4 separate regions of the Homo sapiens genome follow, and all the other regions are linked to region 3. The links come from fine-mapping of genetic effects on gene expression. A gene starts in region 3. Each other region holds a variant in brackets. All regions are shown on one strand. Distances are from middle to middle.

What was found. PIP is the estimated chance that this variant, and not a neighbour inherited with it, causes the effect.
Region 1: its variant is the best candidate, but not a certain one, in a credible set for the expression of FAM167A in whole blood (INTERVAL, PIP 0.54).
Region 2: its variant is the best candidate, but not a certain one, in a credible set for the expression of FAM167A in thyroid (GTEx, PIP 0.71).
Region 4: its variant is the best candidate, but not a certain one, in a credible set for the expression of FAM167A in unexposed skin (GTEx, PIP 0.50).

What each region holds. Positions count from the first base shown.
Region 1 is chr8:11,415,193-11,417,902 of GRCh38, reverse strand. The region is part of intron 3 of FAM167A-AS1 (FAM167A antisense RNA 1); the gene reads right to left. Among named protein-coding and RNA genes, the nearest start is that of FAM167A-AS1, 48 kb to the right of the region's middle. RefSeq lists enhancers at 412-911, 835-1,064, 912-1,413. The variant C/G (reference allele first, on the strand shown) is at 1,771.
Region 2 is chr8:11,402,889-11,405,630 of GRCh38, reverse strand. The region is part of intron 3 of FAM167A-AS1 (FAM167A antisense RNA 1); the gene reads right to left. Among named protein-coding and RNA genes, the nearest start is that of FAM167A-AS1, 36 kb to the right of the region's middle. The variant G/A (reference allele first, on the strand shown) is at 1,181.
Region 3 is chr8:11,465,618-11,468,117 of GRCh38, reverse strand. FAM167A (family with sequence similarity 167 member A) reads left to right here and starts at 1,365. Exons shown (of 3, transcript NM_053279.3): 1 at 1,365-1,492. RefSeq lists an enhancer at 1-202 and a silencer at 1,448-1,657.
Region 4 is chr8:11,423,913-11,426,654 of GRCh38, reverse strand. FAM167A (family with sequence similarity 167 member A) reads left to right here. Exons shown (of 3, transcript NM_053279.3): 3 at 2,019-2,742. The coding sequence ends at 2,282. All of the region lies in intron 3 of FAM167A-AS1 (FAM167A antisense RNA 1), which reads right to left. Among named protein-coding and RNA genes, the nearest start is that of FAM167A, 41 kb to the left of the region's middle. RefSeq lists a silencer at 963-1,154 and enhancers at 1,044-1,586, 1,587-2,130. The variant G/A (reference allele first, on the strand shown) is at 1,271.

The DNA.
Region 1 (2,710 bases), 50 kb after region 3:
AGGCAAAGGCCAGAAGTTACCCTACATGGTCTAAAAAGGGCAGGAACCCTCTGTTCCATTCCAGGATTTCCCCACCCCTTTCCCAGAAAATCCATGAATAATCTATCCCTTGTTTAGCATATGATCAAGAAATAACTAGAAATATGCCCATTCAAGCAGCCCCCGCCTGTGGAGCAGCCATTCTTTTCTTTCTTTCTTCATAAATGTGCTTTCACTTTACTCTGTGGATTCACCCCAAATTCTCTCTTGTGCGAGATCCAAGAACCCTCCCTTGGGGTCTGGATCAGGACCCCTTTTCAATAACAAATCAGTGGCACAGAGGAAGGGAGCCCGTGAGGTCGCTCCTATTTGTCTGTGAAATAGGGAAGTGAGTCGGAGGAGGTGGGATATTGGAGGTTTGCAAAGACATTTTTCAAATAATTACCTGAGAACGGGTGAGTTAATTAGGAAAGCGAAGATGGACCGTCTGGTCTGGTGGCGGGATTGCCCATTTGAGGCTGTGGTCATAAATGTGGGGTGTGTCCAGCAAGCCTGGTGGAGTGATTGATTTTTTCAGCAATATTTAGAAGTTCCAATACAGACAAAGACCAGGCAGACAGTGGGAGATAGGATTTGCCAAGCAGGTGACAGAGAACGGAAACAGCAAAAGTGAATGTTTTTTGCAAAGGAGCAATGTTAGTGTTAGACTGAGTCAGGAGGGAAGGACGACGAGAGGAAACGGGCCGGGAGAGCCAACGGAGCTGGAGGTAGGTGCATGGCCAGTGGTCTCCACGTGACCTGGGGGTTGCTAGGGTGAGTCCAGGAGAGATCAAGACTGAACAGGTGGAGACCAGAGTATGGGGAGAGGGGGAGCGACAGTTCAGATGTGGTGTGGCTTCTTCATTCAGAGACTCGGCCTGCTGCCACATTAGCTGCTGGTGCCCTGCTGAGCGTGGCCAGGTGCCCTGACCCATGGCTGGTGACGTCAAACTGTGGCTTCCTTGGCCTCCCAGAGATCTCGTCTCTCTTATGTTTGGAAAGGGTGTAAACTCCGTTTACACACACCCTTTTGACTTCTCAACAAGACCAGAAGCACTTCCCACTGGCTCCTTCTCCATGTCTAAGCCTGAAGTCTGTGGCCTAGACGACTTGGGGAAGGAGGCAGGCAGAAGAGGAGGAAGTTGGCAGTGACCAGAGCAGACAGGCCTGTGGTAACCAGACCCTATCTGATGGGAGCTGCTCAGCAGATTGAAGGTTTCAGACAGGGCTGTTTTTAAGTACCCCGTTCACAGGCTCAAAGCAAACAGCAAGGGAGACAGCTAGGCGGTCTCCAAAGGAAATTGATTAAGGAAGAGAAACCTCAGATGCGTTGGAACATTTATCATTTCTTTGAGGATACATGCTTGACGTGATGGATATTAATTACCCTGATTTGATCACTAGACACGGAATGCACAGAAACATCACTATATACCCCATAAATATGTACAATTATTATACATCAATTTTTTAAAAATTAAAAGGGAAAAAAGGTGTTTTAGCTAGGCATGGTGGCTCATGCCTGTAATCCCAGAACTTTGGGAGGCTGACATGGAAGGATTGCTTGAGCCCAGCAGTTCAAGACCAGCCTGGGTAACACAGAGAGACCTCATCTCTTTTTGTTTGTTTTTTTGAGACAGAGTCTGGCTCTGTTGCCCAGGCTGGAGTGCAGTGGTAGGATCTCAGCTCACTGCAACCTCTGCCTCATGGGTTCAAGCAATCCTCCTGCGTCAGCCTCCTGAGTAGCTGGGA[C/G]TACAGGTGTGCACTGCCACAGCTGGCTAATTTTTGTATTTTTGTAGGGATGGAGTTTCACCATGTTGGCCAGCTTGGTCTGAAACTCTTGACCTCAAGTGATCTGCCTGCCTCGGCCTCCCAAAGTGCTGGGATTACAGGAATGAGCCACCATGCCCCACCCTTGTCTATTTTTTATTTTTTAATCATAAAAAAATGAAGGTGTTTGCAGGCTGTAAGAATCCGTCATCCACCACTCGCTGCCAGGAACATTCCCGCCTGCAAGATGGTTACGAGGAAAGTGAGGCTTGGTGCAGCTTTGCAGGACAGTAGGGTATTTCCTGAGCCATTTGTTAAACAGAAAGCCCTGCACTGCTCATTCTCTTACTCCCTTCTCCATGCAAAGACTACTGAAGCTAAGGGGCATTTGCTAAAGAACAGCCAGAGTCCCAAGGGAAACCTGAGTTAGAGATGACAAGCCACACTCCTTGGCTCGCTCCCGGAGACTCACCCACCCAGGTGGTCCTGGCCTAGGCCTGGAGGGAGGGCTTTCAGGGAGCTCACCTCTGCTCCCCCACCCACTGCACTCTCGGCCTCATCTGGGAGGGGTACCTGGGCCTGGAGCAGGACAAATGCGTCTCCAACCTGTCGCCTCTGCACCAGTCTGGGTTTGGTCAATAAAGTGGAAGCCCCCTCAGTCTTCCATGAAGGAAAGGACCTGATTCAGGAACTAAGGGTTCACAGAACCCTTAGAAGGGCGGGGACAGGCAGTGTCCGGGAAGAGGCTGTGAGAAGAGGTGACTCACAGAGCTCATCCCCAAAGTCGCCCGGATTTCACCCAGCTCAGCAGGGGGCCTTTTTTGCACCGCTGTAGCTGGAACGGCTATGGAAAGCTGGTGATTCTCAAGAGGTCTGTCCACACCTCTGCCTGCTGCCACCACCGGGAATAAAGCTTCACTTG
Region 2 (2,742 bases), 63 kb after region 3:
ACAAGACAGAAAGTTAACTACGAAATCCAGGAACTGAACTCAGCTCTGCACCAAGCAGACCTAATAGACATCTACAGAACTCTCTACCCCAAATCAACAGAATATACATTTTTTTCAGCACCACACCACACCTATTCCAAAATTGACCACATAGTTGGAAGTAAAGCTCTCCTCAGGAAGTGTAAAAGAACAGAAATTATAACAAACTGTCTATCAGACCACAGTGCAATCAAGCTAGAACTCAGGATTAAGAAACGCACTCAAAAGCGCTCAACTACATGGAAACTGAACAACCTGCTCCTGAATGACTACTGGAGACATAACGAAATGAAGGCAGAAATAAAGATGTTCTTTGAAACCAACGAGAACAAAGACACAACATACCAGAATGTCTGGGACACATTCAAAGCAGTGTGTAGAGGGAAATTTATAGCACTAAATGCCCACAAGAGAAAGCAGGAAAGATCTAAAATTGACACCCTAACATCACAATTAAAAGAACTAGAGAAGCAAGAGCAAACACATTCAAAAGCTAGCAGAAGGCAAGAAATAACTAATATCAGAGCAGAACTGAAGGAAATGGAGACACAAAAAACCCTTCAAAAAATTAATGAATCCAGGAGCTGGTTTTTTGAAAAGATCAACAAAATTGATAGACCACTAGCAAGACTAATAAAGAAGAAAAGAGAGAAGAATCAAATAGACGCAATACAAAATGACAAAGGGGATATCACCACCGATCTCACAGAAGTACAAACTACCATCAGACAATACTATAAACAGCTCTACGCAAATAAACTAGAAAATCTAGAAGAAATGGATAAACTCCTTGACACATACACTCTCCCAAGACTAAACCAGGAAGAAGTTGAATCTCTGAATAGGCCAATAACAAGCTCTGAAATTGAAGCAATAATTAATAGCTTACCAACCAAAAAGAGTCCAGGACCAGATGAATTCACAGCCGAATTCTACCAGAAGTACAAGGAGGAGCTGGTACCATTCCTTCTGAAACTATTCCAATCAGTAGAAAAAGAGGGAATCCTCCCTAACTCATTTTATGAGGCCAGCATCATCCTGATACCAAAGCCTGGCAGAGACACAACAAAAAAAGAGAATTTTAGACCCATATCCTTGATGAACATTGATGCAAAAATCCTCAATGAAATACTGGCAAACC[G/A]AATCCAGCAGCACATCAAAAAGCTTATCCACCATGATCAAGTGGGCTTCATCCCTGGGATGCAAGGCTGGTTCAACATACGAAAATCAATAAATGTAATCCAGCATATAAACAAAACCAAAGACAAAAACCACATGATTATCTCAATAGGTGCAGAAAAGGGCTTTGACAAAATTCAACAACGCTTCATGCTAAAAACTCTCAATAAATTAGGTATTGTTGGGACGTATCTCAAAATAATAAGAGCTATCTATGACAAACCCACAGCCAATATCATACTGAATGGACAAAAACTGGAAGCATTCCCTTTGAAAACTGGCACAAGACAGGGATGCCCTCTCTCACCACTCCTATTCAACATAGTGTTGGAAGTTCTGGCCAGGGCAATCAGGCAGGAGAAGGAAATAAAGGGCATTCAATTAGGAAAAGAGGAAGTCAAATTGTCCCTGTTTGCAGATGACATGATTGTATATCTAGACAACCCCATCGTCTCAGCCCAAAATCTCAAGCTGACAGGCAACTTCAGCAAAGTCTCAGGATCCAAAATCAGTGTGCAAAAATCACAAGCATTCTTATACACCAATAACAGACAAACAGAGAGCCAAATCATGAGTGAACTCCCATTCACAATTGCTTCAAAGAGAATAAAATACCTAGGAATCCAACTTACAAGGGATGTGAATGACCTCTTCAAGGAGAACTACAAACCTCTGCTCAATGAAATAAAAGAGGATACAAACAAATGGAAGAACATTCAATGCTCATGGGTGGGAAGAATCAATATCGTGAAAATGGCCATACTGCCCAAGGTAATTTATAGATTCAATGCCATCCCCATCAAGTTACCAATGACTTTCTTCACAGAATTGGAAAAAACTACTTTAAAGTTCATATGGAACCAAAAAAGAGCCTGGATTGCCAAGTCAATCCTAAGCCAAAAGAACAAAGCTGGAGGCATCACACTACCTGACTTCAAACTATACTACAAGGCTACAGTCACCAAAACAGCATGGTACTGGTACCAAAACAGAGATATAGACCAATGGAACAGAACAGAGCCCTCAGAAATAATGCCGCTTATCTACAACCATCTGATCTTTGACAAACATGACAAAAACAAGCAATGGGGATTCCCTATTTAATAAATGGTGCTGGGAAAACTGGCTAGCCATATGTAGAAAGCTGAAACTGGATCCCTTCCTTACACCTTATACAAAAATTAATTCAAGATGGATTAAAGACTTACATGTTAGACTTAAAACCATAAAAATCCTAGAAAAAACCTAGGCAATACCATTCAGGACATAGGCATGGGCAAGGACTTCATGTCTAAAACACCAAAAGCAATGGCAACAAAAGCCAAAATTGACAAATGGGATCTAATTAAACTCAAGAGCTTCTGCACAGCAAAAGAAACCACCATCAGAGTGAACAGGCAACCCACAGAATGGGAGAAAATTTTCACAACCTACTCATCTGACAAAGGGCTAATATCCAGAATCTACAATGAACTCAAACAAATTTACAAGAAGAAAACAAACGACCCCATCAAAAAGTGGGTG
Region 3 (2,500 bases):
GGTAAAGGGAGATCAGTATGGAGACTGCGTGCACGCTTGGACCCGGGTGGCAGGTCCCAGAACTGGGTAGGGCAAGCTGCTGGTGGCTTGGGTAGGGACAGTGGCAGCGGGCAGGAAGAAGGAAGGAGTGATGTTTAGGAGCTGGAATCAGAAGATCTGGATCAAGGCTGTGACTCTCCAAAAGATGCTTGTTAATACACCCGCTAGCTTAGGACCGTTCCCTCATTAGCATGACTAGGTCTGTACTGGCAAGATGTCTCCTTAGACGACGTCCCTCAGAGGACCTTCCAGTGAAGGTCAGAAAGGAAGGGAGTAGGTCAGGGCTGGATGCGGAGTTGCAGTGAAGGACGCGGGCACCAGAGGGCAGCACGAGTGTCTCGGGCCCCTGCAGGGGCTAAGACCCCACAGAAGGCCCGACCAGCCGCGCACCTGCCTGGAGCCTGCGCCAGTCACTTTGCAGCCCCACCACTCAGCTTCGCGTCTGGCCATGTAGGCGGCGCCTGCGCGCACGCCCAGGGCTATCGTGAGAATGGCAGACTGGAGCCCTTTGAAAGACGCTTCCAGCCCCGGGCATCTAGGAAAGGTGCTTGATGAGGTCTGGGGTAAGAGACCCCCATCCAGTAACCAGCCTTGGGGCCTCCAGTGTCTGGCCTGGGCCCCTCGTCAGAAGCTGGGACTGGTCCTGAAGACCTGCGGTCCGGGCAGCTCGGGCTGCTGTCCTGCCTGTGCCTTAGGGTTTGCAGCTCTGGGCTCTGATGCAGCAGGGACTGGGTCTTAGAATCTAACGACAGCCAGAGGTGGCCGATGCCGCGCCCCTGGCGGGACAGACACCCTGTGGTTAGTGGGGCAAACGCTCGCGTCTTTGCACCTCAGTTTCCTCATCTGGCAGCCAGAGATGCCTACACTTGCCCTGCTGGGTCGTTGGGGGGCGTGGCCCACGGTAGGCGCTCGCGGGCAGTCGTGGCCGCGGGTCCTATGAACTCCTGCCGTTTGGGGGTGGGTGAGGCCCTGGGCGTGGGGTCCCCCTGCGCCCTCCATGCGGACAAACTTCTGACAGTGGCGCAGTCACGTTGCCACAATTGGGGGAAACTGCCTTGGTTTCGGGTTTAATGAGAAAATGGATGTTTGGGTTTGGTTTCATCTGGGGTTTGGCGAAGGCATGTAGTTCCTCTCCACTCGCGGGGGCTGCCCGGGCCGGTGAACCGACAGGGCGCTAGGACCCGGGGCGCGCTCGGACCCGGGGCGAGAACGCGAGGCCGGGATCGCGGTGAAAGGCTCGCGGCGGAGAGCTCGGCCGTCGCCAGGCAACCGCCCTGACGCAACGCAGGGGGAAAAAAAAAGTCCTTTCCGAAAGGAGCAGCGCCGAGAATTCACCGGAGCTCGGGGAGGCGAGGCGGGAGCCCTGAGCTGAGGCCGGGCAGCGCGGACCCGCGCAGGAGGAGGCGGCGGGGACACCGGCGAGTCCCCAGCAGGGCCCCTGGGCTCCCGGAAGGTGGGTTCGCGCCGGCGGCGGGGACTTTCCCAGGGACTGGGAGGTGTGGCCGCGGCGGGCGGCGCAGTCTGGGCAGGGGCTGAGGCGTCGCAGGTCCCCAGCGCGAGCACTGGCCCGGAGCAGCCCGATCCCAAAGCGCCCTGGAGGGGACGCGCTCCTACCGCCCCCCCGGGAGAGGCCGCTCATGCGCTCCCGCGGGTTCGCTGCCCTCCCAGAGGAGCCGGGCAGCCAGGGCTGGACTTCATCTCCTAGCTCCCTGCTGGCCGTGTCCGGGCTCGGATTCTGGGTGGAGGTTCGGGGTCTGCCGTCTGAGAGGGAGGGCCGCACTCAGCCTCTCCGGGTCCACTCCCAGGCGGCTGGTGACCTCCAAGCCCAGCCTGGCTCCTGTGTATAGGTTCAGTGAGATGGAAGTTTCTGTCCCCACGGATGCGGTCCCTAACTAATGGGAGGTGGCCCAGGGCACCTGGACCCAAGGGTGCTCTAAGGACCCAAGCCAGTGTGACCTGAGGGAACGGCACAGCCGCAGGGGCCCCCGGGAATGAGCAGGTCAGCCGTGAAGGTGGGCACCCTGAGTCACCGAGACACCGGAGCACAGACGGCGGGGGGGAGGGTGTCTTCTTCAGCCAAGTTAGGTTGGATGTATAGGTTTTCTGCACACCCGTTACTGCCTGGTTTTTATTCCCGGCGGGGCTTGGAGGGAATTCTGAGGACTGGGACCTCCTGGGAAGATCTGGAAGGAGGGTTGACTCTAGGTTGGGGGCTGGCCACTGCCGTATGCCTGCAAGCAGGTTCTCCCAAGTCAAGTTTCCACAAACTCCCCGTCATTGCTGGAGAATCCCAGAAGATGAGATCACGTCCTATCCACAGGGTTTTCACCAAGGGGCACATGCTCCAAAGCAGCTTCCCACTGACACAGTAGACACAGTCCTGCCCCTCACTAAGCTCGGGATGGAGCGTGGAGAGCGTGGACAAAGTCTTGGGAAAGCAGAGGTGCTGTGGCGCCTGTTG
Region 4 (2,742 bases), 42 kb after region 3:
CTCCTTCCCCTTTAAATATTAAGGCCCTCAAAATCATCTTTGAGGAAAGGCATAGACCTGCCTCCCAGGTGTGCATCCTTAACGTCGGCAAAATAAACTTTCTAAATTGTTGACACCTGTCTCAGACACTTTTGGTTTACAGTGGGTTTGGGAAACTGGGAGTGTGAAGCCAGGTGAGAAATAATTATCACATCTCTTTGTTAACAGAAGAAAACAAACTCTGTAAAATACTTAAAGAGGTTTATTCTGAGCCAGTGTAAGTGACCATGGGCCAGGGAACAGTCTCATGAGGTCCTGAGAAAGCTCGCCCTAGGTGGTCCAGTTACTGTTTGGTTTTACACATTTCAGAGAGACAGGAGTTACAAGCAAAGACATAACTCAATACACAGAAGGTATACCTTGGTTCAGCCTAAACAGGTGGGATATCTTGAAGGGGCTTGGAGGGTGGGGGTGCTTACAGGTCTTAGGTAGATTCAAAGATATTTTTATTGCCAGTTGATTGAAAGAGTTAAGTTTTGCCTAAAGACTTGAAGTCAGTAGAAAGAAATGCTTAAGACAAAGGACAGTTGTGGAGGCCAAGGTTCTTGTTATGTAGATGAAGCCTCCAGGTAGAAGCCTTTAGAGAAAATAGATGGTAAATATCTCTTTTCAGACCTTAAATTTGCCAGACTCTCATTTAATCTCTCCTAGATCTTGGAAAGGCCTAGAAAGGGAAGGCTTGATTGCATTAATGGAAATGCTCTACAGATGTAAGTATCTCCCACAAGAGATGGTTTTGCAGGGCCATTTCAAAATATGTCAAAGAAATATACTTCAGGGTAAAATATTTTTATTTTCTTCAGGGTTTGCTACCTGTTATGTGACGCTATACCAGAGGCAGGAATTTGCTACCTTACTGCCACAAAGAGTCTGTTTTGTCAGTCTTATATCTCTATTTCAATGTTAATGCCGATCTGCTGTGCCTAAACTCCAACAGCAAGGGGGGGTATAACAAAGCATGTCTGAACTCCATTCCCATCACGGCTGGGAATTCAGTTTTCAGGCTTCTCTGGGGTCCTCTTGATGAAGAGCGGGCTTGTTCAGTCAGTTGGGGGGCTTAGGATTTTACCTTGTGTTTACACATCAATAGGAAACATCAAGCCACTAAAAATATTAGGAACCTTCTACAAGGTCACTAAGCACTCTGCTAGCTCCATACACCACACTGCAGCTCGTCCTTGAGCAGCAGAACTTCATTGTCAGTCATTTTGGTTCTGGAGTCCAGCTGTCC[G/A]GCTTCCTCATCCCAGCTCGGCTGTGGATGAGCTTTGTGAGCCGACACAGCTAATTCCCTGGCTGTGCCTCTGTGTCCTCCTCTATAAGCTGTGGGTGATGATGGTGACATCACTTCACAGGTTGTAGTGACGGTTAACTGTTGCATGTTAATAGACCCAAAGGCCTTAGAACTGTTTCATAATAAAACACCCAGTACCTAGGAACCAATTTTTGTTTGGCTGTTTTGAAACTTTACTAAGAAATATTTCAGGCATTCTAAAACGTTTAAAGAGTAATGTAACAACATGACACTCCCCAGCGTAAGAAAGAAAACATGGCCATCACAGTCAAAGCCCCCATATACCTTTCCCAATCACAGTCCCTCCTTCTCACCTAGAGGCAACCATCCTCCTGAATTTGATAGCTGTTACCCTATGTTTTCCTTTATACTCTTACTCCATCTAAATGAAACTCTAAACAATGAGAAAGCACTGGAAGTATCTTCTAGCCAGGACCAATATGCATGTCTTTCAGAAGGACTTAGATACAGCAACTAGCCTAGCACAAAGTATTGTTTTGCGACCGCACCCTCATTTGTCACCTTGCTTTCTGTGTCTTTTCACCTCCCTGAGCAGGGAAAGTGCTAATATTTCTAGATGGACCACTTAATGAACTAAGACATTAGTCAGGGCCCTGCTAACCAGTCTGTGCCTGTCAGGGACTCGAGCCACTCTCTGCTGACCCTGCCTGCTCCCCCTCCCTTCCAGACGGAGATGCGGCTGCAGGACCAGCAACTGGCCAGACAGCTCATGCGCCTGCGTGGCGACATCAACAAGCTGAAAATCGAACACACCTGCCGCCTCCACAGGAGGATGCTCAACGATGCCACCTACGAGCTGGAGGAGCGGGATGAGCTGGCCGACCTCTTCTGTGACTCCCCTCTTGCCTCCTCCTTCAGCCTCTCCACACCACTCAAGCTTATTGGCGTGACCAAGATGAACATCAACTCTCGGAGGTTCTCTCTCTGCTGAGGAGCCCTCAGACTGGGCGGAGGGGCTGGAGCGGAGGGCTTGGGCTGGAGGGGTGTCAGAGGAAGCTGAGGCCAAGTTACTCCAGTGGGTCTCCCGGAGGCAGGGGTCCCTGGGACTGGCGACTCAAGGGCCCCAGGACCTATTCAGTGGTGCTCTCCCACCCAGGGGCCCTGGGTGTGGATGCCAGTGTCTCTGTGACTGGCTCTTGCTTACTACCCAAAGAGCTCTGCAGAAGGGCCGCTCCAACCAAGATGTTAAAGGAGACCTGGGTTCCCACCATAATCCATCCCTCCACGGTCACGTTCCTGTTTCCTGGAATCACTGGTGCTATGAACTGGGATTCCCAAAGGGAGGCCCCCCAACAAAGCTGTCATTTTTGCAGAAGGCTGTCCCGCAAGGGCCTTGGGGGAAATTAGGCATGTCAGATGTGCCTGTCTCACGTGCTGTTGCTGTCCTCTAA